Linked DNA regions of Homo sapiens: all the other regions are reported to be linked to region 1. The links are microRNA targets in miRTarBase. Many come from high-throughput screens and were not tested one by one. Region 1 holds a microRNA gene; each other region holds the end of a gene's coding sequence. Distances are from middle to middle.
Evidence for each region. The annotated mature microRNA hsa-miR-146a-3p reads CCUCUGAAAUUCAGUUCUUCAG and lies in region 1 at 4,828-4,849, opposite strand. An mRNA with a match to its seed (bases 2 to 7 or 8) in the 3' UTR can be bound and repressed. Matches are read on the target gene's strand: a 7mer-m8 pairs with bases 2 to 8, a 7mer-A1 pairs with bases 2 to 7 and ends in A, and an 8mer does both.

Region 2: miRTarBase lists CORO1C as a target of hsa-miR-146a-3p. Seed matches in the 3' UTR shown: 8mer at 4,025-4,032.
Region 3: miRTarBase lists ADCY2 as a target of hsa-miR-146a-3p. Seed matches in the 3' UTR shown: 7mer-m8 at 3,746-3,752.
Region 4: the mRNA of SPATS2 is a reported target of hsa-miR-146a-3p. The part of its 3' UTR that is shown has no 7-base or 8-base seed match.

The regions. Positions count from the first base shown.
Region 1 is chr5:160,482,614-160,490,256 of GRCh38, reverse strand. MIR146A (microRNA 146a) reads right to left here and starts at 4,905; the gene lies at 4,807-4,905. It overlaps MIR3142HG (MIR3142 host gene), which reads right to left. Exons shown (of 2, transcript NR_132748.1): 2 at 2,831-4,958.
Region 2 is chr12:108,641,106-108,648,748 of GRCh38, forward strand. CORO1C (coronin 1C) reads right to left here. Exons shown (of 11, transcript NM_014325.4): 10 at 7,500-7,643; 11 at 4,004-6,417. The coding sequence ends at 6,298. It overlaps LOC105369968 (a long non-coding RNA gene), which reads left to right. Exons shown (of 3, transcript XR_007063449.1): 3 at 1-5,560. Among named protein-coding and RNA genes, the nearest start is that of MIR4496, 9.1 kb to the left of the region's middle.
Region 3 is chr5:7,825,459-7,833,101 of GRCh38, reverse strand. ADCY2 (adenylate cyclase 2) reads right to left here. Exons shown (of 25, transcript NM_020546.3): 25 at 3,021-6,383. The coding sequence ends at 6,231. CFAP90 (cilia and flagella associated protein 90) reads left to right here. Exons shown (of 3, transcript NM_001089584.3): 3 at 1,073-2,724. The coding sequence ends at 1,252. Among named protein-coding and RNA genes, the nearest start is that of CFAP90, 22 kb to the left of the region's middle.
Region 4 is chr12:49,524,984-49,532,626 of GRCh38, forward strand. SPATS2 (spermatogenesis associated serine rich 2) reads left to right here. Exons shown (of 14, transcript NM_023071.4): 14 at 961-2,442. The coding sequence ends at 1,272. Among named protein-coding and RNA genes, the nearest start is that of KCNH3, 10 kb to the right of the region's middle.

The DNA of each region.
Region 1 (7,643 bases):
CATATTTTAAAGTATAACTGTGTCCTTGGGGTGGAATTGGTCATGGACGGGGGCTCACTCCTGCTGACCAAAGGCACAGGTGGAGGAATAAGTCAGAGTGGGCCTCAATGCATGCTCTTCTGTTTTCAGTCACACTGCAGAAACAGAGGCAAAAGATTTTTTTTCTTTCCTTCCTTCTAAGTTCATGTATATTTGTATACATTTTTTAAGTAAAAATGATCTTTTTGCTATAGGGATTTTGGTTTTGAGGCTCCACGTCACCAGTTACCAGCTATATGGCACGGGGCACAGATACGTTGCAAAATCTTTTGAAAATTCCACTTTCCTATCTCTAAAATTAGGATTATGAAAAGAGCTATGGCCAGGCACAGTGGCTCACGCCTGTAATCCCAGGACTTTGGGAGGCTAAGGCAGCCAGATCACTTGAGGTCAGGAGTTCGAGACCAGCCTGGCCAACATAGCGAAACCCTGTCTAGTAAAAAATACAAAAATTAGCCAGGCGTGGTGGTGGGCACCTGTAATCTCAGCTACTCGGGAGGCTGAGGCAGGGAGAATTGCTTGAACCCAGGAGGCGGAGGTTGCAGTGAGCTGAGACCACACCACTGCACTGCAGCCTGGGTGACAGAGCAAGACTCTGTCTCAAAGAGAAAAAAAAAAAGAAGAGCTATTTCACGGAAGAATGTGGTGTTCAGCAAATATACTAATGTGTGTTAAAGTGCTTTACAAATTGTAAATCCTAACACAGTACAAACTTTAGTGAAAGGAACATAGGTTCTTACTGTGCAGTCCTGATTAACATCCTAGCTGTGACACTTAACATGTTGTGTGTGAAATTTAAGCAAATTATGTAACCTCCCTGAGCCTCAGTTTTCAGATATAGAAAATAGAGAAATCTTTCATTATTACAAGATACCTTGTGTATCTTGTAAATATCCAATAAAGTTGTAATTATATTTTCTGCACTTTCCCAGGAATAATCAAAATTAACTCTTCTACTTGGAAGGGCTTCCGCAGGAGATAGGAGCAGAACATCCTTAAAAAACTGTTGTGAAATCACCTTAGTGCTAAGAAGAGCAAAGAGGAACTAGACAAGATGGCTTGTACCCTGGTTTCCTGCCCCCAGAGCATTTTTCCAGACTCTCTGACCACCTGGACACCCAAACTGGGAGCTGCCTCTCTGAAATATTATTAGAAAAGAGGGCAAGAGTCTAGATGTGAGAAAATATGAAAAAAAGAAATTTCCATTTTAACTAACAAAGGTTTGACTGCTGGCAGGACTTAGGAAACCACTGTGTCCCTAAATCAGTGAATCCCAGCAACCTAGCACAAGGGAAAGGCAGACTGTGAGGTAGTGTGTCCAACTTTCCACCTCATCCCATTAATGTGAGCTGATAAATCATGACCTTCCTTTGTTATCAGAGGATGGCAAATCAATACTTCCATTATCATTATTATTACTCCCAAGGCACCTCTCTAGCAGCATGTGAGCTATTCTCTCCCAAGCACAGAGCCGAAAGGATGGCTAATCTGCTTCTGAGACCCCATCAATCACAACAGGAAGAGAAAGGATGAATTGGGAAGAAGAAACATAATAGTACGGAGGGGGAAAACAGCATTTGAAAAAGCCTGGAATAGTTGCTCTAAGTGTCGTCCTAGGACCTCCTTGATGACATTCAGTGAGTGATGGTTAAAATGACAGATACTTTGGAAATGCCTAGTCTGTGGGTCAGGGGCATGACCTGCCTTAATTGACAACTTCTTCAAGCGGTTTTATGCACCTAAAGTTTGCACATTAAAAACCTAGAAATCTACTATTCACCGGTGGAAATATCACTTGTAACCATCTTGAAGTTTTGGGGTCCTGCTGTTCATCTCTCAGAAATAAGTTTTGCGGAATACTTGCATGCATACTTGTAGGAGTGGGCCAGCATCTTTCATGTCAATGTCAGCTATATTTCAGTTCCAGGGGAATGCAGATGTCCCTTGATTGACCCTATCAGTACTAAAACTTTAGTGTGCATAAAAGTCAGCCAAAGGGTTGGTAAAACAGAAATTGCTGGGCCCTACCCCTAGAGTTTTCTATTCAGGAGGTCTTGAGTGGGGCCTGAAAATTTACATTTCTAAAAAGTTCACAGGTTGGTTAGCTAATCCAAAAGTCATTCCCAGGCCAAGCGTGGTGGCTCATGCCTGTAATCCCAACACTTTGGGAGGCCAAGGTGGGCGAATCACCTGCAGTCAGGAGTTTAAGACCAGCTTGGCCAACATGGTGAAATCCCGTCTCTACTAAAAATATAAAAATTACCCAGGCATGGTAGCAGGCGCCTGTAATCCCAGCTACTTGGGAGGCTGAGGCAAGAGAATTGCTTGAACCCAGGAGGCGGAGGTTGCAGTGAGCCAAGATCATGCCACTGCACTCCAGCCTGGGTGACAGAGTGACTCAAAAAAAAAAAAAAAAAAGTCACAGGTGATACTGATGCTGCTGCTCCAAGAAACACATTTAAAAACCACTGGCACACATGGATGGATTTTTGGAGAGAGTTCTTTTTTTATTTAGGCAGAAAAGCATGATTAAGGGAGAGGGGAAAAAAATCACTTGCAATCTTAACACCCACTACCCACTGGATATCCATACACTTACACGGATACACACACACTTCTCCTCGTGCAAAAAAAAAAAGAATCACACTACATATTACCCTGTGCCTATCTTCTTCATGGGACAACAAATCAGGGCTCTCTCTCCACTCCTCCATGACCCACCTCTATGGCATACTGTCTAATAAATGCACAGCATGAGTACTGTCTGGACTCATCACAATTGGGTGTTATATTGTCTTCAATAACTTTATTGTTGTAACCAAACATGTTCTGTGTTAAGTCAAACAATAGAGAAAAATACAACCAAAAAGAAAAACACATCTCAAATCCCACCACGTCAGAGATAACCATTGTTAGCAAATTGATGTACATCTTTCAACACACGTATTCCTACATACATTTATTATTTTACATAAACTGAATCATAGACACCAAGTTATTTTGCAACATGCTTTTTCCACTTACATAAACCAAGTTTTGGTAAAGCAAATACAACCTCAAAAATCTTTGAGAAATGTACTATCTAATGGAATCTTAACACAAATTCTCTATGAAATGAAGCATTCTTTTATACAGTGAATTTCTGCCTACTCCTCACAGATACACTAGGTTAATTTTTTAATGTGTGTGTGTATCTGTGAATTCCATATTTCATTTATTAGGTTTGCTTTAGGAAGAGTGCCCCTGAAATAAAAATGAGCCTTTTGTACTAAATCGGAGTTCTGAGCCAAAGTCAGTGTCCACAGCACAGAGGAGCTGAAACCCAGAGCATTTGGAGCTTCTAGTATATATTCTGGATTTTCTCCATCAGTCTAGGACTGAAGACACCGATCTCTGGTGTCGGTTGAGATTTCACCAAGGTTCTGGTTCTGGAATGAGTCACTGGCTAAGGGTCTGATAAGCAAAGGGCGGAAGTGGGCAGAGTGTGAGAAGGGTGGGGGAGGTCCTTGATCTGATCAGTACAACCCAGAGAACACACCCATGTCCCACACGCTTGCGAGGGGGCCTTCATAATAACCAAGCACCCCTTTCCATCTGTAGAACATGGTTACGTGTTTTTCAATTTGCCATCCTGTTGTTAATTTGTCCCCGTTTTCCAGATGAGGCTTGGTGAGATTCACTGAGATCATGCATACAAAGAAAGCCCTGAGCACAGTGCTTGGCACATAGTGGGCACTCAGTAAACCTCGGTGTCACTGAGAAGACAGAATGAGAATGAGCATGCTGTGGAGTCTTTCACCTGCCTCTCCTCTGGGACAGGTTACTCTTTCATTCTGTAGACTGTAATGACATGGAAATTCCAAGATACCAAGAGACAATGATGAATCAAAGATGAGTTCCCAAAAGACAAATCACATCCCTTATTCCCCATCAAATCTAAAGCCTAATAAAGTCCATATAGCACTCATGAGGCCTCTAACCTTCTGCCTAAAAGTGATCATCATCACAGCAAACCTGAGCCTCAGAAAGGACCTAGCTTACTTGGTGACAGAGGAGGGCAACAGAAGGACTTGGCCCATGGCACCCAGCTGACCATGTCAGCAAATAGAGAGGCCTTCAAAGCCTTTGCATTCCTGTTCCCTGGAGAAACTGAGGATTGCAGTAAAGTGTAATTACAACCTCTTTTTGCCTTGTTTGAAATACAAAGGGACAATGTAGCCCTAATATATTTATAGAAGGAAGTAGAGATCAAATAAAGGAAGAGGGGGACCAAAAGAAGGGCATATCCATGTTTCTCATCTTCTTTCACTGCAGATCTTAAAAAGGAACCAGAAGCCTCAGCAGTCCCTGCTAAAGAATCATTGTCACATTCTATTAGTTCCCTCTGATCCCGTGAAGAGGGGGGAAAAATCATTGCATGGCAATGCCATGTGTCTCAAGCTTCATTAAAGTGATTTCTCCCAAGAGTCTCGTATAACAGCATGTAAAGCACTTACAACAGTACCTGAATCATCGTAAGTAATCAATAAATGTAAACGAGTAGCAGCAGCAGCAAGAGAGACTTGCTGAGATCATTCATTTAGCTACTTGGAACCCTGCTTAGCATAGAATTCAAGTCTTTTCACAATCAAATGAGTGTTTCTCACAGGAACTCACACTCCTTATACCTTCAGAGCCTGAGACTCTGCCTTCTGTCTCCAGTCTTCCAAGCTCTTCAGCAGACTGAAAAAGTTCTTCAGGATCTACTCTCTCCAGGTCCTCAAGCCCACGATGACAGAGATATCCCAGCTGAAGAACTGAATTTCAGAGGTCTGACACTGACACAACCCATGGAATTCAGTTCTCAAAGCTGAGGATACACATCGGCTTTTCAGAGATGGTGCAAAGACCCCTCCTTGCAGTCCAGGCCTGTCCCAGCCCTGTAAAATACAAGAGTGAAAAGCCTGGTAAATCCAATGCAGCTGCTTCCTAGTACCAGGTCTAGTCCTGGCACTCATGAGTTATAAACATCTGGAGGAGACCAGGCCAGCAGTCTGGAAGGCTGATGTGGGTGGATCTCTTGAGCCCAGGAGTTCAGGACTAGCCTGGGCAACATGGAGAATTTGTCTCTACTAAAAATAAAAAATGAGCCATGCATGATGGCCTGTGGTGGGAGGATCGCTTGAGCCTGGGAATTGGAGGTTGCAGTGAGCTATGATTGCACCACTGCACTCCAGTCTGGGCCACAGAGAGAGACCCTGTCAAAACAAAAACTAATCTGTAGGGGATGTGTATGGTAGACACACACATCATTAAGCATCATTAAACATGGTAGCTGGCCTTTCCTGCCTCATGACCCTTCCATATGCCATCCCTCTGGCCTGGAAAACTCGTTCCTCTCTTTAACATCAACTTATCCTGATGTTCTTGCTTTCAATGTCACTTCCTCAGAGAGGCCATCTATGGCAGAGATTGCTGATTGTTTGCCCAATATATATTCTCTCCTCCTTCTATACTAATAGAACCCTTAAGTGGTATCTGAACACATGGACATCTGACTTTGTTTCCTCACCTGGTGTGACAAAGTGCTGGATATGAGCAGGAGTGGAGAGTTTTTTACTGTTTCCCTCCCTCTTCTCAGGCTTGGACTGTAGACATGGTAGAGAGCCACTGTGGACCATGCAAATGAGTGCAGCCCCCCAGGGAACAGCAGAGCAGCATGCCAGAAGAGCCCCAAAAGTGTGAGGCTTCCTTATACACCCTAGACTGCTTACACCTGCACTGATAGATCAGCAAGAATGGAACATTTACCTTATTTAAGCCACTGTTACTTGGGGATCTCTGTAAGAGCACTTGAATGTTTACCTACCACTCCCTCACCATCAGCCTCCAGCTAGTCTCTTTCATAATATGGGATTCTTTCCTTCACCGTAATTTGTAATTGTTAGATAATTTTGTATAATTATTTGATTAAAATTATCTCTCCAACAAGACTGTTTTCCATAAGCATAGAGACCATGCTAGTGTTTTTTAAATATGTATATAGGCGAGATGTGGTGACTCACACCTGTAATCTCGGAACTTTGGGAGGCTGAGGCAGGCAGATCACCTGAGGTCAGGAGTTCAAGTTTCACTTGGCTAACATGGTGAAACCCCGTCTCTAACAAAAATACAAAAATTCGCCAGGCATGGTGGCGCACACCTGTAGTCCCAGCTACTTGGGAGGCTGAGGCAGAAGAATCACTTGAACCCAGGAGGCAGAGGTTGCAGTGAGCTAAGATTGCACAACTGCACTCCAGGCTGGGTGACAAAGCGAGACTCTGTCTCTAAAAAATAATAATAAAATAAAATAAGTATATAATAGCCTTATTGAGCTATAGCTATATAGCTCACACACCAGAAAATTTACCTATTTAAAGTAAAAAATGCATTGGTTTTTAGTATTTTGCAGAGTTGTACAACCATCATAATCAATTCCAGAACATTTTCATCATCCCCAAAATAGATCCCATAACCATTAACAGTCAATCTCCATTCCCCTCCCTCACCCCTGGGGAATCACTGATCTACGTTCTGTCTATATATATGCTGGACATCTTATATAAATGAAATCATATAATCAGCGGCCTTTTGTGACTGGCTTCTTTCACTTAGCTTTCAGGATATATCCATGTTTTAATGCGTATCAGTACATCCTTCCTATGGATGAATAATATTCCATCGTTAGGATCTACCACATTTCATTTATCCATTCATCAGCTGATGGGCATTTGGGTTGTTGCTACCTTTTGCCTATTTGATGCTTCTATGAATGAATACCCATGTACAAGTTTTGTATGGACATATGTTTGCATTTCTCATGGATGTGTGAACCCAAAAGTATCTGAGACAGACCTGAATCCATTTAGGAAGTTTATTTTGCCAAGGTTAAGAACATGCCTGTCACACAGCCTCAGAAGGTCCTGACAACATTGTGCCCAAGGTGGTCGGGGCACAGCTTGGTTTTATACATTATAGGGAAACATGAGACATCAATCAGTATATGTAAGATGTACATTGGTTCAGTCTGGAGAGCTGGGACAACTAGAAGCAGGGGTGGGGGCTTCCAGATCATAGGTAGATACAAGACAAACTGTTGCATTTTTTTGTCTCTGGTTAGCCTTTTACTGAATACACAATTTACATGTGAGAGGAGGGTAGAGGAATAGTCACTTATTCCTTAGTCTGGCTTAGTGAAATAATAGGGCAGAAGAAGCAATCAGATATGCATTGGTCTCACATGAGCAAAAGAATGACTGAATTCTGTCTGTCCTTTGTCCACAAGGAATTTCCTAGTGGGCAAATTGTGAGGGAGGTATGTAGCTTTTTTATCTTTGTAGCTAGCTTACGTAGGAATAAAATGGGAGGCAGGTTTGCCTCACACAGTTCCCAGTTTGACTTCCCTTTGGCTTAGTGATTTTGGGAGTTCTGAGATCTATTTTCCTTTCACAGACGTATACCTAAGTGTGGAATTTCTGTGTCATATGTTAACTCTATGGCTATCAGTTGATGAATGGCCAGACTGTTTTCCAAAGCGGCCACACTATTTTACAATTCCACCAGCAGTGTATGAGGGTTCCAGTTTC
Region 2 (7,643 bases), not on the chromosome of region 1:
TGTGTCTCCTTCAGAGACCTTGACAGAAAACATCACTCTAGAAGCAAAACAGGGAACAGGCGGTTGGAGGCAGAGAAACCAGCTACAAGGCTGTTCGGACACTAGACTGTTATCTACATGGGGAGGCACCTGGCAGGTGGCCAGATCCCCAGATGGAATCTCCACCTTGTGGTTTATGAGGCATTCTAGGCCACTGCCTCCTGAAGACACTGCTCAGGGTGGTAAGAACTCATTTTGCATTTGGGGAGCTGTAGGTGGGGATGGTGATAAGCAGCCCAGGATTTTGTTCGCCAAGAGGTATTATTCCAACTTCCACAACCCAAATAGCATCTCTGCACGGAAATGAAGCTGCAACAGCTCCCTGTCATGGATGGGGCACTTCCCAGTTCTCAGACTTCATCACTAGAGCCCCCAAGCTTGGATGTTGTTGCTGAACTCCCTCAAGGCACTAAGTGTTAGCCTGAGCACCTCTCCTGGCTGGACCAGGGGTCACTTGCTCCATTACAGTTCTCTCCAGCTCGGTGACACTCTCACTGTAAATGCAAGTTCTCACTCAGTGAATGCCAAGACGAATGCAACCCTACCTAGTGGGGTAGAGATTAGGAAATGGGCGATGAGAGGCACAGGGCTCTTGGGAAGGGAGCCCTGCTGCTGGGGGCCTGAGAGACACCCAGTGGAGAGGAGCCTGGACAAACTTGGCAACCAGCCCCAACCACGTTCCGCAGCATTTTGGGGGCCAGGCACCCTGTGTGTGATCCCTTTCCACTGTAACCAGGCCTGCTCCCTGCTCTTCCCCTCGGAGACACAGATGACTGCTCCTCTCTGGCAGCCCAAAGCTTTCTCTGCCCCCACAACTGCCTGGGGGCCTTTGAGCCACTTCTCCCCAGTTCTGTTCCAAACCCACCAGGAAGTCCTTCCCCAAAAGTCCACTTACTCTTTGAGATCAGTGTGAGGAAGCTACTCTAAGAACAAAACTAAGCACCCGGTGGTGAGTGCCCAAGCTCAAGTGTGCAGATTTTTTCTGACAGCAGAATAGACCTGTCTACTTGCCTTCCAAGTTGAGTCCTGAAGTGGGTAACTTCCTCCTCTGACTTCTGCCCTCAGGCTCCCTGGGCAACGGCCCTGACGTTGCTTTCTAGCCCCTCACCATGAAGCCTGTCAGGGAGCCGCGTGCCTCACCCTCTATCTGCCCCTCACTAAACTCAGGATCCTAAAATCTGCCCTCTTACCCATTTTCGTTCACATGAATTAAACTCCAACTACAATGAATTTGAAGGATCCCATCTGCCTCTCTAAACTCACCCCCCTCCACATTTCAGCCAATCCAACCAACTCAGCAGTCACCTTATCCTCAAGGATCTTGGGATGCGCAGTAATTCCCATCTCCCACCCAGCCCTCCTGACACTCGCCACAGGGGAACTTTCAGCCGGCACACCACGGCCAGTGTCGCCTAGCGAACACACCCCCCCCCACCCCACACCCCAAAGTTCGAAGTTGAGAATAAGCCATTTGCTGGTGGACTCGGTTCCCACAGGAGGGATGAGGACAGCTGCCATCTGCACATCAGCTGCCTAGGACTTAACATTTCACACGTCACGTTTCAAATAGAGGCAGCAGCTGCAGCTGAGATGAAGCATATCAAAGTATACTTAGCCCTTACTATATTGGAAGAAAACGTATTTCCCAGTTCCGATGACCTTTGTTTTCTGCCATATTAAAGTCTTACGTAATTTAATTTTTATATAGCCAATCTGTCTTTTCCTTTGTGATGTATTCCATTGCTTTAGGGCTTACATTTTTTCTAGTCTGAAGTGTAGATTAAAAGGGACTTACTTTCTTCTAAATAGAAAAAGAAAAGGTTTTATTTTAACTGTGGACTCCATTAAGAATGTATATTGGTGTCCCTGCTGCCCCCACAGCTAACCAAATGTTGCTGCACCATTTCAAACATCTCCACTGATTTATGCTTATCTTAATAATTATTAACTTATCACTAATACATTAATTTTAATAATGCCTTTCTGGGAATAAATACATTTATAGGAAATTTCTAAATTCAGAAAAATAGGATTAAATAGAAATTACACACAACTTTACCTCCCTATAGCAATAACAACATTTCTGGTATTTATTCTACACATAAGTATACATTGTATATGCATATATCCTTTAAAAAGTTTGTCACAAGCCATCTGTTCGGGGTTGGTTTTACATATCTGTATTAGGAAACCTACACCTCTCACTAGAAGTTCTGGTCCTGAATGTTCTTATGAGGTCCAATGGACTTCACTTTCTTCCCCATTTTACTTCTGAATGGATTAGCCAACTAACATCATTTACTGCAGAGTGACTCCATGGGGTAGAGAGCTGATGAGAATTACTTTGTAAACACACTTTTTATGCTGACATCAGCAACACAGTTCACTGTAGGGCTCTTGGCATACACAGAAAAAAGTTGGTAGTGACATCCAGCACCCAGAAATAATATACTTTCATGTTTCAACCTAGGTAGGTATATATTTTAAACCCAAGTTGGAATTGACTTTATTTTACTATTTTTTTAATGTTTCCTATTCAATACTCTTTTTAAATGACTTTAAATAATGGAACAGAATTATAACATATGGATATGACAAGTAACTTACTGACCCCCTTCTGCAGAGTTGATTTTACTCTTCTAATTCCTGAATATACCTCCCACTAGTTCCCTGGGACAAAATTTCCAAAGGTGAGAATCTTGGGTCTTAAGAAAACCTTTAAGGCTTTTGATCCACTTGCCAGACTGCCCTCTGGAAAGGCTGTCCACCCCGCACATACCCGCTTTTCGCAGGAGAGGACTGCCACCCCTACATTCTTTGGCAAGGGACTTCTTTTTAACGAATAAAAGAGCACAAAGGGCACTGTCCGGCCTGGACATCAAGGGTTGCCCGTCTGAAGCAGGAAAGGCGTGCCCTTGACGGTGACTCATGTCCGTGACCCACTGCCAGCACTGGGATACTTAATGTGCCCGCAGAAAGAGAAGGGCCCACTTAGAGTTAACAGATTCTTAAGAGCCAACAAAGAGTTTTTCTGGGTGTAGAATACCAAGTACAGCAAGGGAAGTGACCTTGAAAAAAAAAATGGAAGTTCCCCCCAGACGAGGTCTGGCTGGCTGTCTGGGGCCAGCATGCTGACCTTCAGGTCTTCTGGCAAAGAATCAAGGTGGCCCGAGTGAGAAAACAAGTTAGTCATAAACAGACCACCACGCGTCTCCTGGCTGACTGCGGGCACCTCGGGTCTACAGAGAGCCCTGCCAACTTCTACTTCCTGCAGCCACGAGTGGACCAAGAACATGGCAGCCATTCTTCTCATAGACTAAAGCAACTTTAAGATAAGGCATTTGAGGAAGGGGAGCTTTATGCTGACCATTCATCATATTCAGAAAAAGCAAACAGTGGGAAATTCTTTGCTACAATCACTGAAATGTCACGAGACAATGTCATAGTGCGAAAGGGAAGCCCTGCAATTCAACTGACCCTGGAAGCCTGCTGGAATAAAAGTCACAGCTGAGCCAAGAGAATTTTGCTTCTATTGAAGAAAAAGTGCTTTCAAAGACTCTGTCAGAAAATCAACTCATAATAGTAACAGTAGCGGCCATGCAGCGAGGGTTGTTTGTGTGGCCACACAGGTATTCCTCTCATCTGAACTACATGGAATTATCATCCTCCTTTCAAGAAAAGGGACTCAGAAGGATTAGGAACCCCATCCCAGGACACACCGCTGGCAAAGGTCTGAGGCAGGATCCAAAGGCTCAGGTCTGCTGGAAGCCAAAACACAGTGCTTGACTGGCTTGGAGACCTCACTTGTACTTGAACTGAGCCACCCACACGCGCTTCCCCTGTACTTACCCCCGGAGAGGAGTATGGCACCGTGCTCGTCCACCAAAGTCAGAGAAGCTATGTCAGGCAGAGAGGTGGGGGCTGCCTCACAGACAGCCAAGGCGTGAAATAAACACAAACACCATTTTGTAATCAATGATTTTTATCTCTGAAAATGGAAGCAAGTGTTTTGACAGAACACTATGGCCACTCTATAAGAGCCGACCTAGGAGTAATTCACTGTCCTCTTCTGGGATGTCATGGCTTAAAAAAAAAAAAAAAAAAAGACAAAACAGGAAAATAATCCACAATGCTTTGGGCGCCTACTCTGAGCTTGGCTGGGCATCCATTCATTAAATAAGTCATAAGCTACAAACTAAGATCAGGGTAACTTTCCCTTGCCCTCCTGCTTCTCTTTGAACCACATGCCCTACGGTGTTTCACCACCATCAACAACTTTACTTCATTAATTCGATATCAGAACCTTAAAACACTACTGAATCTTAGACAAAAGGTCCTCAGCAGATTACATTGATAAAGAAACAAATACAGATTTGAATATAAGTCATTGCCATTATTGTTTTCTTTACATCTCATGATCCACTTCAATATTAAACACATACATACACACACACAAAACCACATCAAACATTCAGATGCCCTGAAATTGTGGAGACAGCACTCCCAGTATTGGCTGGATAAGAACATGGTCCTTTTTCTACACGGACATTACTCCAAGTTCGGCTGTCACCACACTCTGCCCTCACCCTGGCTCCCTGCATACAGACGTTTCCAGCCAGTCCCATGCCCACACCAGCACGAGCATGTGCAAGAATTCCCTTCGTGGTCCCAATGGCACTACACATTTCACGTTCAATCACAGACAGCCCTTCCAAAACAGAGGCTCCTTAAATCTTGTTTCCCAAGCATGCACTATAAGAAACTGGAAACGGGGCAAAGTTCCAGCTAACCGAGGAATGAACAGGTGACCAGAGCTCAGTCTCTGGCCCCCTCCGAGTCCGGGGAGCCTCTGTGCTTTGACGCAGCCTTGGTGAGAGATGGAGAGGCAGGGCAGGTTAGTTGTGCGGAGGGACATGTTTGTATGCATTAAAGCTACAGCAGAGGTCTGTGCTCCTGTTTCTGCTTCACTCTCTATCATTCTCCTCAGTCTCAATACTCATTCAATCGCACCCTCTGGCCTTGTCTTAGCTTAATGTGGTTAGAGCTAAAAGGCAGGAAGGAAAGAAGGAATGGCTGGGGGAGCCCTGAGAGAGGTCGCAGCACATGTGAGGAAGAGGGTAGAGCAGGAGCTTTGTTGGTGGAAGGAGAGCCACTTCCTCCTCCAACACAGCATGGGGACAGCACAGGGAAACAGGATCACCCAGGGCAAATACCCCTCTCCACATGCCCACATTTTTAGTCCCCACCACTGTACTCAAGAGCTGGGCAAGCTGCTGAAAAGGGCAAGAAGGAACACTCAGCAGTACACGTCTTCCTGTCCTGGGCACCCTTGTCAAGTATTGACCAAAACCTGAAACATGATGTTTAAAGTGATGAATGCAATATGATCCTAGGTGTGTAACAAACTGCAGAAACACATGCTAGTTTGGGTTAGATTATAATCATCTGAAGCACAGGATAACCGAGAAGCAAAATTCCATTCTGGTACAAACACCCAATTTCTAGAAAAGAGAAAGGAAAAGAAGAAATACGACGTGAGCTTTTTTGATCAGAAGACTCCATGAAATGAGAGCGGTGGTAATATGAATCCACGTGATTTTTCAAGTCTTCCTGTTGTACAGTCATCAAAATGACCAGGTTTGTGCTGCAAAGGAGCCAGCACCATGTGGCTACTGCTTTGATTGTTCTCAGATGAATGTTTATACAAAATAATATCTTATCTTCATTTAGTTTATAAACATACACAGTGCTGTCCCTTTCAAATTAAGGAAAAAAAACCACACACACAAATACTGCAAAGTAGCAAAATACAAAGGAAAACAAAGCTACTTTTGGTTTTGGCAACATTAAAAAAGAAAGAAATATAAAAAGCAATGTGGCATTGGTCCCTATTCATTAAAAAAAAAAGGGTACTTGGGCACGACACAATCAGAATTAGTTTGTTTTCTAAAATTCAGAGTATCTGGGATTTTAAAAGTAGCACTTTTTAAAAAGTTCAACAAGTCACATAACACTTAAAACATCAAAAAAGCTTTCTGATAAAAAGCTCAGCTTTTAAATCACGTTTTGTTTCTGCAAATTTGGGAGACAAATTGAGTTCTTACTGGAATGTGGCCTATCGCTGGTTGACAAATCTGAAATGGAATGTCTCCAAATGGCAGTGCCTCCCTTTCCGCCCTCCCTAGGACCACACCAATAACCAGCTCCCAAGCACAAGTTCTTGCTCCCATTTTTTCTGTAGGGGTGGGGGTGGGACCTTCAGGCTGCTATCTTTGCCATCTGCTGTTCTAACTTGGAAATACGCTCATCTTGATTGCAGATTGTGTCTTTTATAGATTTGATCTCTTTTAAAATCTCATCCAACTTGGCTTCATTTTGCTAAGAAAACAAAAAAAGGAGGCAGTGATTAAAATGCAGTAAACAAAGTTCAACACTGTTCAAAACTTGTAAGATATAAAATGTAGTTTTCTATTTTGCAAACGGCAAGCCATAGTCACCAAGTTGAAAAGAGAAGTCAAAGCCCTACTATGTCTGGGGCTTTGAATGCAATGAGCACTGGCCGATCTATCTGAGATCCCGTGGCAAAACAACAGTGTGTCACAGTGTCACAGTGCCACTTCTGATCCCGAAGCCTGTGCATTTACTCAAACAAAGGGTCTCCTGGGTCACAGTTAGACTATAGGACAAAACAGGCTCCTTCAACAGTGTCCTACGTCCTAACCACCCCAATCATTCCATCAAGAGTAACTTCTATCTGACCAGAGAGAGGGGTGACTCTCCCAGAGGCTACAGAGCTCCTGCCATCTGTGAGGCTCCTTCTTGGGAGGGAAACCCTTGCCCTGTGTGTCCACTCCTTCTCTCTTACCCAGGACCTGCTCTCCCGGCAACAGCAGCACTCTCCAGTGGCCGCAGCGAGTCAAAGGCAGGCTTGATTCCCAATTCCCCACCCAAAGGGCTCTTGCCTAAATCCCCCTTGTTGCCAGCCCCACACCGCCAGATCCTTCTGTCGTAGCCACTCAGCTACATCTGAACACGTGCCACTCCCTCCTTCCAGGGACCTCCTCTCCCTGGTGCCTATGACCCCACACTCCCATGATATTTTATTTCTACCCAAATCAGAGAAGGGTTTAACTAGTTTGGCAAAAGACAGGAAAAACCCAAGAGGCTCCTGTTCACACTGAGAGATAGGAGGAAACTGATACCTATCCCAATCATGGTGGTCTGTGGCCACACTTGGCTCCTTTAATGGGGCTAAAGGAGCTTTAACTCCGTTAAAGGAGGCAAGTGTTGCCACAAACCACCACCATCACGTGACCGAGGACCTTCTCCCACTTTTTCATTTACTGAAAACCCCTGAGCACCCAGCTGGGACAGTACTCGCCGACGCCCTGGACCACAAGGGCTTTCTAGAGGATAAAGCCTGAACCAGCCAAGCACCCCTGCACTCCACTGGTCCTCACCACACTGGCCGTGTCTGTGGTTTTCTTGGGGATGCTGATCAGGTCGCACTTCTTGTTTGCAGTGGGCTTGCTATCCAGAATGTTCTTCTTGACCACCTTGAGATCCCTGTTTTTGCCTGGAATGTACCCGTGCTTCAAGGAGAT
Region 3 (7,643 bases), 150 Mb from region 1:
ATTTAACAATTTAAGGACAGCAAAGCTAAGACATTCCCTTCAACGGATAAAACAAGTCTCTGCTTAACCTCTGAGTCCTGGCTTTCATAATTTTTCTAGAAAAGTTGGTCTTGCGGAGCAGAAATTGCACACACGAGAACATTTCTTCCAAGTTTAGTTACCAAGCCACCATAACCAGCACATGTGGTGCATTCTAAGTTGATGCAAAGTTATTGTCTTCCTCAGGAGAAAACTGTGGCAGGTAGTTTTTCAGAAAAAAGCCCTCTCAGAGCTGCCATTCCTGAAGGAAGAGAGAAAAAGGCAAAGAAATCATGGGCTGGGTGTGGTGGCTCATGCCTGTAATCCCAGCACTTTGGGAGGCCGAGGTGGGTGGATCACTTGAGGTCAGGAGTTCGAGACCAGCCTGGTCAACATGGTGAAACCCTGTCTCTACTAAAAATACAAAAACTAGCCGAGCGTGGTGGTGCACGCTTGTAATCCCAGCTACTCGGGAGGCTGAGGCAGGAGAATTGCTTGAACCTGGGAGGCAGAGGTTGCAACCATTGCACTCCAGCCTGGGCGACAAGAGCAAGACTCCTTCTCAAAAGAAAAGAAAAAAAAGAAATGATGAGCAAATTCTAGGTAGTGATGAGTGGTATGAGGGAAGAGGAAGCCATGTGAGGATGTAAGATGGGGAAAGTGAGAGGGATGAGCAGGGAGCTGGGGAGGGGAGGGGTCAGGGAGGACCTGGACATCTGAGCCAGGATCTGGGTGGTGGGAAGGGACCAGCAGCAGCAGGAGCTGGGAAATGACCAGGAAGAGCACAGGGACAAACGGGTAGAGCAAATGGTCCGGCACAGTTTCCCAACATGTCCAATGAATACACCAGCCAGCCTTCTAGCAAATTCAACGGTTCCCTGCCATAGGCTACTTCCCTGTGAAGCCCCTGGCTTCAGCGTGGAGGTTCCCTCTTGGTCTACCATGGTGGGACCCAGGCAGAAAAAGCTCCCAGGACCCAGGCTGATGGATGCACGGGTGAGCTGTGCTGGCGAATGCAGTGGTGCTGACTATGTGCTTTGATAACTTTCACCAGGAACAGGAGAGGCCGGTTGGAGTGCTGACGTCTTCTGTCTATGGGAAGCGCATCAATCAGCCCATTGAGCCCCTAAACCGGGACTTTGGCCGTGCCAACCATGTGCAGGCTGACTTCTACAGGAAGAACGACATCCCCAGCCTCAAGGAACCCGGCTTTGGGCACATTGCTCCATCCTGAAGCATCCCCGTGGCCCACAGGGCATGTCCGATACCCTGTGGCCTGGCAAGTTTGCACAGCGAGAAGGTGGCATCTGGAGCCTCCTTTCCCCTTCTCATGACGCCTAGGAGCTTGGCTATGCCTGTGTTGCATCTCTACAGTGGGACACATGAACACGTTAGCAGCCCCCCTCAGGTTGCTGGGTTAGGAGCCTGACCAACAACACCTTTAGTACATGTGAAGAGTCTCTGATGTGATGATTTTCAGCTGGAATTATTTTTGATCAAATGAATCTGGAGACCGATTCATTGTGAGCACCTGAATAAAATGAAAACTTTGTTTCCCCTTGGTAACTGTTGGGTTGGTTTCTGTTCACTGGCTCTCTACATTTGCCAGGATTCTTTGGGGAGGCAGTCACAGGAGTGAGGTGCAGTTGCTTTTCCCACGAGTTAGGGGAACTCCTGCTGCCTGAACACAAACAACCCTGACATGTTCCCTTCTCCAAGAGGAGATGTGATGACAATTGTCTTTTGGCACAATTGAACTCTAGAAACTCCATTTTTGTTTTTCCAGAGGTCTGAATCCCAAATAACAGAATTTTGTGCAGTAGGGACCAGGAGCCCTAGTAAGGATGGGTGGCCCTGGTGGCCAGCAATGCTCACTATTACTGCTCAGAGAGAGGGGGCCAGTCATGGGAAGAGGCTAGATTTCGGTGTTCAACAAACTTGGGTAAAATTCTGGTTGCTGCATTTTCTAGATTTGTGTTCTAGGGCAAGTCATATCATCTACATGAGCAGACATTTCCTCATATTTAAAGTGGAATTTCCAAACCTAGAGGAGTTCATGCGGGAGGCAATGAGCTGCTGGAGCACAGGCATAACACAGGTACCCAGTGTGTGCCCCACCCAGTGCCCCGTCATCACAGCAATGACTTGACTTTAAACAGTCTTCTTTTTGGAAGCAGTCGCTTGTAACCTAAGTTGGAAATACTTACTTTGGAGATAATTTGAAACTTACCCAAGTATTAAAGTATCATCAGCTACATTTTTAATGAATGGATCCCTTGGAAGAAATCATCTCTCATCTACCATGATTAAATTTCCCACAGTTTAGCAGTGAATGGGCAGGTGGCCTAATTAATTTCAATACTGATCGCTCCATCACTGGTTTTATTGTTTTGAATATGGAAAAAGGATTCTCTAAAAATAAATGACACTGAATTCCGGCAATTTCAAGGCTGAGTGACTCCTAAGTATTTCTTTATTTTTTTGAAAACAGTTTTTCAGTGTAGGTGTCTTTTATTTATTTCAAACAAATGGCAGTAGTTTATTTCGAATGCCTTTGGGTGCATTATACCATATTTATAGTAACATAATAGAAAATATATAAAGTTTGGGTTATAGAAATATTTATAAATTATTCATTATTCAGACTTGATTTCAACAAAGACAAGGCATCTGTAAGTGACTGTAATAAATCAAAGTCAAACTAAATTATTTTCATTTACTTTCAGTCAGACCTTACTCCCTTCACCTTCTACTACATACTGACTTTCAAAAGGCAGGGCTGTAATTGGCCAAGATTTCAAAAGATCTCACATTTGTTAGGCCATAAGAGAAAATGAAGTATATTTCTCTCGGTATCCCAATGTTTATCATTTAAAGCCAATGCATGAATGCTTGTTAAAGCCATCACACATCATATCTTCTTATATTAATGGATTGTTTTGGTTTATCAAATTTTCATCACTGGGCAATTATGTTGCTTTTTCTTTTTTTTCTTTTTTTTTCTGAGACAGAGTCTCGCTCTGTCACCCAGGCTGGAGTGCAGTGGTATAATCAAGGCTCACTACGTTCTGGACTTCCTGGGCTCAAGTGATCCTCCCACCTCAGCCTCCCATGTAGCTGGGACTACAGGCACGTGCCACCATGCCAAGCTAATTTTCTTATTTTTTTGCAGAGATGGGGGTCTTGCTATGTTGCCCAGGCTGGTCTCAGACTCCTGGGCTTAAGTGATCCTCTCTCCTCGGCCTCCCAAAATATTGGGATTATAGGAGCCACTGCACCCGGCCTGATGATGTTACCTGGTCATTCGGTGTATCCAGAGCAAAGGAAAGATGAATGGTTGCTGCCTTTAGGAGCACAGTGAGTTGGGAAGGAAGAATAACATCCTGGATTGATGACAAAACTTAGACACTCCTAAACAGATATGTAAAACACTGGGGTTTTTGGGAAACTGGACTGGAGGCAATTTCTATGAGAGGCTTCCTGTAAGACTTAAAGGTTAAGGAGAGCATTGGGGAGAGATTTTTTTTTTTTCTTGAAGCCAATGGCACTGGGACCTGGGCTGATGAGAGGTGCACTGCCAGTTTTCTGCCTGGCATTTTTGCTCACAGGGATGCTTTTAGCTGCCCAGAACTTTAAGGAGCTTTGACCAGGAATAATGCTCTTTCAGATTCAAGGAACAGGCAGTTTTCCATTCTAGCCTGGCCTCAACTGCTAATCAACTGTGGAACTCTGAACACATGTGCCTGAATTACTCTGCCCCTGTTTCCTCACCTGCAAAAACACTGGGGAGGGAGGGAGGTCTGAAGCTTGATCAGGGATCAGAATCACCTGGAGAACCTGTTCACTAAACAGCAGTTGTGCTGGGCCCCAGCCCCGGGGATCTCAAATTCAGGGTCCTCCTTCAGGTTGGGGCCTGAGAATTTGCATTTTTGATAAGTTCACAGGGGATGCTAAGGCTGCTCCTATGGGACCACACCTAGAAGGGACCAGGTACACACAGAGCTTCCCATAGTGGATTCTGACAATGACTCAATGCTTTTAAAAGCCTATTGTTTGGTAAGACTGGTGATATGGCTTTGGGAGAGCACAGTTCTCCTTTTGAGTTCTTTTTAGCGCAAACCCAAGTTCGGTGCACCCCGTGGGGGAATGGGAGGGACTCTGTTTATGAGAACTTGGTGGACCACCCAGCTGGGGGTGTTCACTCAGGGTAGGTGAACTAAGGTGACCTGCGGATGAGTGTAGCAGGATGTAACAGAGGAAGAACCCACGAGGCACGCCTGCTGCTCATCCTTACACATTTTACACCAAGGCCAGTTTGAGCTCACGGAAACGCTACGGCATCCGTGAAGAATGAGTTAGAGGAAAGAGAAAAGCCCTTGTAATAATTCTCTTGCTTTAATCACTGTTTTTGGAGATTTAGGTATATTAAGGCCAATGCTGAGTTGTGATTACAGGATCAAAAAATTCCCCATTGAGGCAGAATACTAAATAAGTCATGCTCTACTCACACTTCGGTGATGAAGGACGGTTATCAGCTTCGATAAGTGCCTTTTACTGGGAATGAGTCACAGTCCTGGCACAGCAGCTGTGCCCGTGCTGTGAATGTACCACGGGGCACCTGCCAGGCTCGCTCACAGTCATTGCCTCGTTTAATCACTAGCGAGTCCATAAGTTGCCAATAAGGAAAGTACTCCTAAGAGGGACTAAGAGATGTGTTCAAAGTCACACAGCCAGTAAAAAATCAGAGCCAGGATTCAAACCAGGAACTTGTGCTTCAAGTTCGAGTTCCCACGAATAAAAGGCTTCCTAAGAGATCATCTGGGTTCTCTACTTCTTACAGATGCCTGCCATGAGTTATAAAAAGAAAACAAGTTTGACCAACTGGGCTACAATTTGCAGTTTTGCTTTTAAACATTAGCTTATACACGATTGCTCTACTTTTCACTATTTGGCAAAGTATGATTTCTTTATGTTAAAAGTACCAAACAACTTGTGTTGGATTTACAAGAACAAATTCTTCAAGGCCTTCTGTCTTTAAAAATGCATGAACGTTGGCTGTGTGTCTTCTTTAGCCTTCTCAGACTTAACAGGCAGTTTGTGGGTCTTAGTACTTCTCTCAGTTAGCTCACGCTATTGTGAGACTGATTTGCATAGCTGATTCCAAATTATTCTTTTGCAGTCTATGTCTGTTAGCTCTAGCAAAACATTCTTGGAGACAGGAGCGTAGTGGACGGAGGGGGCACTGTTGCTCGCAGAGAATCTTTTTACTATTAAAGTATTTTTCCCTGAAAGCGTTCTCTAGAGATGCCCAAATTAAAATCAGACCACTAGATACATTCAACATGCTTGCCTGCTTTCCAGGGAGCTGAGTAACCAGTTATCTGCGTCACACACTGTGTCCTAATCTGAATTACATCTCAATATTGGCTTCTGGAGAGCTCTTTCTGAAACAACTGTGTCAAAAGGGAGAATGGATGGAAAACAAACCTTAATTCTGGAGCAAACCACAGGAGAAAGAAGACAGGAAAATAAAAGATACAGGCACTGTAAATCAAAGTACATAAAACTTTTAATGAATTAACTTTACAAAAGACAAATGGCATCAAAACATCAGACGAGTTTGATACAAAACTGGTCCTAGGCTGTGAGGACTAATTCTGGTGACGGATGGCGACGTGCTGCTGGCATGAGACACACGGAGCAGAGGGACGAGAGCCGTGGGTCCCAACGGGGGCCCTTGGACACCACTGGCAATGAGACAATGGGTGAGCACAGAGTCCACGTGGGGGACAGAATCAACTTATTCACGAATACTGTGTGTTTGAATATCAGATGAGCAGATGCGGTTGGCGAGCTACCATATTTTCCAGAAAAGAACATGCACCAGAAGATAATATACACCCCCTAGTTTTATTGCCTTAAGAATGTGTGTGTGTTTCACCTTTCTCCTCTGTTAGTTCTCCCAGTGCTTTTCTTCTATCACGCGCGCTCCTTTTCCCTTTTGCTTAGGAGCAAGCACAGTGCAAGTGGCAGAACGATCTGGGCACACATCAGACACCAAACGGTATGCCACTGGGTCACGAGAACGAGTCTGCAGAGGCTCCATAGGACAGACAGCACGCACATCAAAAACAAGGGACAGAAGTTGCAGTCAGAAAGTGTGTGATACCTTCCTGAAAATACAGTCTTCTTGCCAAAATGAAGGTGACTCTTCAGGATGCCACGTTGCTCTGGGAAAGGGACCTTGACATTTCTGTGTTTACAAAGTACGTCTTCAGGTCCCCCTTTCCTTTCACGTTGATTATTCCTCGACAGGTGCACGTGTATCCGAGGGTCTGCAGGACGAGGCTCGTCTCCTCGGTAACCTAGAAGGCACAGGAACACGGGAAAACGGGCTTAGTACATACATTGATACAACCCATCTGACTCAAGGATGCAGAGCTAAAAAAAGCACCATGCTCTTTGACCCAGGAATTCCACTCCTGAGAAGTTAGTAGAAAAGTGAGAGTAATCCACAAGAAAAAAAGGTTGTAAAGGACAATGTTGTTTAATTCAGCGCTGGGATAGTGAAAAACTGGAAACAACCTAAAATTCAAGTAACTCCAGTAAACTACGGTGCTACCATGATGCTATCATGGATGACACAATGTCAAACCATTTCACCCAGAAAAGGAATTGAGCCTGGATCCAGGCTATGATTTCAACCACATGATGTTATGTATTCACACTGAAGAGACCTGGATGAAAGAGAGTAAACCAAAATAGATTGGAGTGGTGGGATTCTGGATGATGTTTATACATTGTCATGAATGTCCTTTCATGAAATAAACATTAATCATAGATGTCAGTGTCGATGGGAGGAACACCCCGAGAAGGAGCACTGAGCACTGTAGACTCCTGCCAATGGTCGCGTCTGTCAGGTTTGATGCCTTTGAGTGAAGTAACCTAAAACTGAAAGAGCTGTAGGAATTTGCACTGGTGTCCGCATGAGCATGATGCTCCCAGTCAAGTCTCAAAGGTCTCCTCGCTTCACTGCATTGAAACGGGGGCTAAGGAGGGCAGCCCCTCTTGCAGGCTGCTGGCTTGACAGGACCACTTATTTCCTGCCATTGCACCGACAGGCGAGGGACCCGGCAGCTGAACCATGTCCAGGCCCTGCAGGTCGGATGGCCGTGAACTTGCTGGCTCTGACAGCTTCCTCCTCAGCGGAGATGCACTGTCCAGTACTGGCTCCCTGAGCTTCTGCGTGTGCTGCGCCTTCCTTAGGACACCCTGTCTGGGACTGTGGGCCCGCGCCTGCCTGGGCTTGGGCTGCCTGAGTGTGGAGGAGCTGCAAAAGCAGAGAACCAGTGAGACACACAGGCGTGGTCTGAGGGTGAGGCCTCAGCTTCTGAGGCCAGGGAAGACCCCTCTGTTGGCTACCTGCTCCTCCACCCAGTGTCCCCTAGCAGGTATCTGAGTTTGGGCAGACAGAAAGCCCTGGTAATGCTGCTTTGGAACCATGAGAAAAAGGCACAAAGGAGCAATCTCCTCCCACTTCATCTGAGAAGGCAGCTGGCATGGCTGCAACAAGGGCACCTGTGAGACCCTGGCCACCTCCAGCACTGGAGTGACAAACCTGTGCC
Region 4 (7,643 bases), not on the chromosome of region 1:
CCTCTCTATTCCCATTCCATGCCTGTTTTGAATCCCTCCAACCCAAGTTAGTTCCTGAGAAAGCATTAGATACGTATGTTCCAAACTGCCAGCCAGTTTAGATTTCCTGTTGCCAAGAACTGCTGACTTTCTTGTGTTGGCAGTGATCCCTGCTGTTGTAGATAGTATTGCCTGGTAATTAGTCACACTGGGAGTCGTGCACCCATCTCAAGGTAGACAGGCACCACAAGTGGCAGTTTTACCAGTGTGCATCTGAAAGCAGCAGCTCCCTAGAAGCACAATGTGGAATTTACAGGGAAAGAGAGAGTGAACTGGTGGGGATGGGGGGAAAACACTAGAAAGCTGAGGAGTAATCCATAGGTTCTTCTCCTGTTTGAAGAATAAACACAAGAGCAATCCAAGGCAGTACTGTCAGTAATTCTTCAGAACTGGTATGATGTTTGGAATTGGAGGACAAAAATAAAATCCCATACCGTAAGCTTTCCGGATTATAATGCGAAAGATGTGCTGAATGCCACAGCAGCATACTTTAATCTGTAGTTCATGACATTTAGCAAAGCAGGCCATAGTGATGTTTACTTTATTATTCCAAATGTGTATTATCTTTACCAATGGCCTTTTATCTGCAGAGTTCAGACATAATATAATATACTTGTCCAATCGAGGGCTTGTAACAACCCAGAGAATGTTCTTTCTTCCTTATCTTTCTTCTTGCATCCAGCTAAAGAAAAGTAAATTCTTCAGTGGAGAAGAGCCTGGGCATGAAGAGCAGGGAAAGATGGATTAGTTCTGAAGTAGTGGCTAGGTTGGATTGGCTGAGAGAATTCTTTGAGTCTTGAGAGATAACTGAGTCCCAAGCATGGGATACCACAATTCTGCTTTCAGAATACTCCTGTAAAGTGAACGAATGGGGTACCATAATGCTAGAGCACCTTGAACATTGTATTCTTTCATCTTTAGGTATTGCCAGGGAACAGACGAGGAGGACAGGGCTATAGGCCACAAGGCCAAAAGTCCAATGACCCCATGAACCAAGGGCGGCATGACAGTATGGGTCGTTACAGAAACAGCTCGTGGTATTCATCTGGTTCCAGGTATCAGAGTGCTCCATCTCAGGCACCAGGAAACACCATTGAAAGAGGCCAGACTCACTCTGCAGGGACCAATGGAACTGGAGTCAGCATGGAGCCCAGCCCTCCCACGCCTTCATTCAAAAAGGGGCTCCCCCAGCGCAAACCCAGGACCTCTCAGACTGAAGCCGTGAACTCTTGAGAGAAAATCCAGTTGGCCTCTCTCCTCTATCCACACAATTCAACTTGATAACTGGACTTTAGGAAACTTACAGTTAGATGTAATAACAAAAAGAAGTTTATGCGTATCACTTTTTGTGCCATTCTAAGTATTTTTGGTTTCTTGTCTCCTTATTTCCTCTTTACCATTTTTGGAGGGGAAGCTATTTTTTTTCCTTGATCTTTCCCAGTGATATGGATTGAATCTGGTTGGTCATTTCCACCAGGAATCAGAGGCAGCTGTTACCAGGTTTCGGCCTTCCAGTTGATCCCTCCACTGTCCAGGCTGTCTCAGGAGGAGGTGAATCAGAGCTAGTCTGTCACCTTTCCAATCTAAGCCGAAGCCACAGGTGCCTGACAGGTTCCCTTCTAACAACTATTTGACCAAGAGAGGCAATCAGGGGGTTGTATACTGCACTGGATTCGCCAGAGAAGGGAAAATTTAATTAGTGAAAAGGAAAGAACACTAGGAAACATTTGAGAACCTGCCTCTATCCCAGAATGTGCTGGAGATTTGACACTCAAATCAGTGTTTAGTCTTCTGCTTGGCACCATAGCTTAACCTGCAGTTTCTTCAAAATGCCCAATGCCTTGTTTCCTATTACCTTAGATTGCAAACCAGTCTAGGGAAGTCTATGAGAAAGTAGCATTTAATTAAAGTTTAAAAAAAAAAAGGTTGGGCGTTGTGGCTCATGCCTGTAATCCCAGCACTTTGGGAGGCTGAGGCGGGTGGATCACTAGGTCAGGAGTTCAAGACCAGCCTGGCCAACATGGTGAAACCCTGTCTGTACTAAAAATACAAAAATTAGCTGAGCATGGTGGCGTGTGCCTGTAATCTCAGCTACTCAGGAGGCTGAGGCAGGAGAATCGCTTGAACCCAGGAGGCGGAGGCTGCAGTGAGCTGAGATTGTGCCACTGCACTCCAGCCTGGGAGACAGAGCAAGACTCAGTCTCAAAAAAAAAAAAAAAAGCATTTTTCTGTTTTAATGTTTGGAGACTTTTTTTTTTGTTCTCTCCCTTTCCTGAACCCTATTCTGATCCTGAACCAAATTTATAGCAATATAATTAGTGTTAATCTAAGGCATTACTCATCAAAAAAATTGCTGCAGTCTTTACAGTTGAATAAATAAAAACAACTGCATAAATATGCCCACTTTTGTTTCATAGCAGCAAGTGGTTTCATTTCATTATGTTTTTCTTTGGGCCTCATGGGGGTAGAAGTCACTCAGACAGCTTGTTCCAGGATTAAATGAGGGTATCTGATTCCCAAGTCATTTGTCTGCCACCACTGCGTAGCTTCAGAACCAAATTAAAATATGAAAGCCAGGAAGAGCAAATGCAGTTGTTCCTAGTGAGAAAGGATCATAGGATAGGGAATGGTGACTTTCCAAAGGAGAACTTAACCACTTTAAGAAAACCACAGCTCTCCAGGCTCTCCCAGGTAACCAAAGTTTATAATGGCACTGCTCTCCCCAACTCCCTGTCCCTTGACTGAGTATTGAACGTAACCGTATAATTGAGCTCCTGCGTGTAGCAGGTGGCATGGGTGCCAGACCCTTCCACCCCACACTCACCCCCAGCATCTGTGATTTAATCACAGCAGAGCTTTTCTTTCTCTGGCATGTGTTCTCCCAAGTCTGAAGCCCAGACTGTAAGTGGCAGCCGTGCAGAACGTAGCTGCCTCAGGGCTTCCCTTGCCTCCTTGGCTGAGTGAAGCTGAGCTGCCAGGGTTCAGGTTGGTTGAACACATTCAGAGAGAGTGTGTGTGTCTGTCTGTCTGTCAGTAAAGAAAACAGTAGTCAAGGAGTTCTGGGTATTTTCCAAGAGCACCTCATTTTGGGGAATTTGTCCAACGACACCAACAGCCTGCTGGGTGTCAGGAAAAAGCCCTGCATTTCTGATTAATTGCTTACCTGTACTTTATCAGAAATCCAGAGATTGAAGTGACCTTGAAGGATTATGAGGTCTGTCCCTGTATCCAGGCAAGACCGTACTTAACCACCCAGACAGATGGGACAAGGCATGTTTATCAAAAATGCCTTGAAGTTGAAATTAAAATCTCCTTATAGAAAAATATTTGAAAATTTTTCATGACCACAAAAAGTTTGAAAATTATGAATTAAAAAAGTTTTTATTACGAAAGTAGTATTTAAAATATCAGTACAGAAATATAAAAGGAAAAAAAGTTATCCATCTTTCCACTTCTCAGGGGTAATGACTGTTAATTTGGCATATATCCTTCTACACCTTTTTTCTTTTTAGAAATGGGGTCTCACTGTGTTGCCCAGGCTGGAGTGCAGTAGCTATTTACGGACATGATTAGAAGGGACTCTTGGGCTTAAGCAATCCTCCTGCCTCAGCCTCCTGAGTAGCTGGACTACAGTTGTGCACAATCACTCCTGGTTAGACTGTTTTTAAACCATGTATGTGCATATACACATGAGTATATGGGTTTTTAATTTTTTTTATACAAAGATCATACTGGGCTGGGTGCGGTGGCTCACGCCTGTAATCCCAGCACTTTGGGAGGCTGAGGTGGGTGGATCACCTGAGGTCGGGAGTTCAAGACCAGTCTGACCAACATGGAGAAACCCCATCTCTACTAAAAATGCAAAATCAGCTGGGTGTGGTGGTGCATGCCTGTAATCCCAACTACTCAGGAGGCTGAGGCACGAGAATCACGTGAACCTCGAAGGCGGAGGTTGTGGTGAGCCGAGATCACGCCATTGCACACCAGCCTGGGCAACAAGAGCAAAATTCTGTCTCAGCTAGGCGCGGTGGCTCTTGCCTGTAATCCCAGCACTTTGGGAGGCTGAGGCGGGCAAATCATGAGGTCAGGAGATCGAGACCATCTTGGCCAACATGGTGAAACCCCGTCTCTACTAAAAATACAAAAATTAGCTGGGCATGGTGGCTGGTGCCTGTAATCCCAGCTACTCAGGAGGCTGAGGCAGGAGAATCACTTGAACCAGGAGTCGGAGGTTGCAGTGAGCTGAGATCGCACCACTGCACTCTAGCCTGGCGACAGAGAGAGACTCTCAAAAAAAAAAAAAAAAAACGAAACTGTCTCAAGAAAAAAAAGATCATAGTACTATGTATATTCTGTAGTTTTTTAAATAATATGTGTAAACTATAATTCATTTAGGATCTCATGCTGTGGATCTTCTCCTAAATTTGCCAATTTGACTCTTCTTCAATGAGAAGTTAGGTTTATCCTAAGTTTGAATTGTGTAGCCCATTCCTCATTGCCCATAGTGGTTCTAGGCTTCCCAAAAGAAGGAAGATACATCCCCTGGGCAGTTACCACTGGTGCACCAAGAGGCCTTACCTAACCATTGTTTGTCCTTCTCTTTCCACTTCCTCTTTCAGACAAATGTCTCACCCTGCCCAACTTAAGAGATAGGACTGCAACTTTAAGTTGTTTAGCTCTGCCAGTTACATGACACTTGAGAGGCAAAATTTAAATTAGCATGGCTTCATTATGAACATCATATATTTCCTATGCCCCTAATTTATGGCGATTTAAAAAAAATGTGCTTTTAAACAAAAGTGCAGACCAGCTTTTTTTTTTTTTTTTTTTTTTTTTTTTTTAAAAAAAAGGGACCGGGCTGGGCGCGGTGGCTCACGCCTGTAATACCAGTACTTTGGGAGCCCAGGCGGGCAGATCACAAGGTCAGGAAATCGAGACGAGACCATCATGGCTAACACAGTGAAACCCCGTCTCTACTAAAAAATAGAAAAAATTAGCCGGGCGTGGTGGCGGGCGCCTGTAGTCCTAGCTACTCGGGAGGCTGAGGCAGGAGAATGGCGTGAACCCGGGAGGCGGAGCTTGCAGTGAGCCGAGATCTTGCCACTGCACTCCAGCCTGGGCGACAGAGCGAGACTCCGTCTCACAAAAAAAAAGGCGGGGGACAGGGTGCGGTGGCTCACGCCTGTAATCCCAGCACTTTGGGAGGCCGAAGCTGGCAGATCACCTGAGGTCAGGAGTTTTCAGACCAGCTTGGACAACATGGTGAAACCCCGTCTCCACTAAAAATACAAAAAAAATTAGCCGGGCATGGTGGCGGGTGCCTGTAATCCCAGCTACTTGGGAGGCTGAGGCAGGAGAATCTCTTGAACCCGGGAGGCGGAGGTTGCAGTGAGCTGAGATCGCGCCACTGCACTCCAGCCTGGACAACACAGTGAGACTCGGTCTCAAAACAAAAACAAACACAAAAAAGGGTACATAGTAGAAATTTAAAAGTTTTCTCTACCTTGTCCCACTCCCCCGAAGAAATCGCTGGTTTCTTACATGTCTTTCCAGAAACTTTCTAAACCCAAACATAGAAGTACCTTTTCTTTCTTTTGCATAAATGGGATTCATACTGTGCATACCCTTATACAAGTTGCTTTTTTCACTTGTCCTCACTTTTTGTAACTCATTTTTTTGTTTTGTTTTAAGAAAAATCAAGTATATTTCTACTTACTGACGTGGATGGAGGTCTACGAGGTATAGACCTCTGTTCTGTGGCTGCATAGTATTCCATTGTATAAGTTTGTTATTATTAGTTTAACCAGTCCCTAATGATGGTTTTCAGTTTTCTGCTATTACAAGTATTGCTGCAATGAGCATTCCATAATGCATATATCATTCCTCACTTGAGAGAATATCCCTGTAGGATAAATTCCTAGGAGTGGAATTACTAGGTCATATAGTTATTGATAAAGTATTATTTTGATAAAGTTGCACGGATTCACACATGCAACTTATTTATTTAGAGATATGGACTCTCTGTCACCCAGGCTGGACTGCGGTGGTGGGATCATAGCTCACTGCAGCCTCAAACTCCTGGGCTCAAGGGATCCTCCTGCCTCAGCCTTCCAAGTAGCTGGGACTACAGGTGCATGCCACCACAACTGTCTAATTTTTTATTTTTATTTTTTGTAGAGATATGGTCTTGCTTTGTTGCCTAGGCTGGTCTCGAACTCTTAGCCTCAAGCAGTCCTCCCACCTTGGCCTGCCAAAGTGCTGGGATTACAGGTGTGAGCCACTACACCCAGCCACCAGGTTTACATTTTCTACCAGTGTTTGGCAATGCTTTGTACAGTTGCTGAGCCAGAAGCTAAGGAGAGAAACAATCCCTGACTTCACATGGCTGATAAACCAGTTGATGCAACTGAGAATACCAATAAATAATACAAGGAAATAGTGTTGCTTGAAAGTGCCATGCTGTCTTCGAGGTGGAGGGAGCACAGCCGAAAGGGCTGGGTCCCATGCTTGAGCCAGAACTATACCAGCATATGATCAGGCAGTTGTGCAGTGGTGTATGGAGATAGTGACATTCCATTATATTTCAGAATCCCAAACCAGGGTACAGTCTTGTGAGTATGAATGTATGTATGGGAGGGAATAGGATAAACTAGTTGAAGTTAGGAGTGACCCGGAAAATTCGGGATGCATGTCACTCATCTTTGTACTAACCCGTTCTCTTGGAGAAGGTCAGTAGAATAATGTCTTGTTGCCCCTGAAAATTCTACCATCTGACCCAAGAAAATGAGGTTCTGTCTTCCCTGATTTGTAGGGTTCATCCCACCTTCTGGTCCCATTTGGTGAGGATTGTATCCTTATGGCAGCACATTTCTTGGAAGAAACAGGTATACATGCTGGGAGGCTGCCAACTGATACAAGAAACTATTTTATCACTAGTTTAACCAACGAGTTCAAAGTACCGGCTCACAATGCTGGTAGCCAGAACAACATACTATAAAATCAAGTTTCTGGTTGTTGTAGCCACTTGGGCACATTTTCTCTCCATCATACATTGAGGTACCTACTGTGTGCTAGGCACTCTGCTGAGTTCTGAGCCAGAAACTATTCTAGCTCATTCTTCTTCTTTTTTTTTTTAATCTATATTTTTTGACACAGGGTCTCACTCTGTCACCCAGGCTGGAGTGCAGTGGGGCCATCTCAGTTCACTGCAACCTCTGCCGCCCTGGTTGAAGCAATTCTCTTGCCTCAGCCTCCTGAGTAGCTGGGATTACAGGTGCCTGCCACCACACTCAGCTAATTTTTGTATTTTTGGTAGAGACGGGGTTTCACCATGTTGGCCAGGCTAGTCTCAAACTCCTGACCTCAGGTGATTTGCCTGCCTCAGCCTCCCAAAGTGCTAGGATTACAGGCATGAGCCACCAGGCCCAGCCCTAGCTCATTCTTCAACTGCTTTGCAGGTAAAGGAAGTAGAGCTCGTCCTTAAACCCTTGGGAGCCCTGCCTGTTGGCCAGGCAGTGTGGTAGAGTATAAAGATTCAACTTGGATTTTAATTCTGGCTTCACAGCTTGGTAGCTGTGTGACCGACTGCCCTTGGACAGATAACA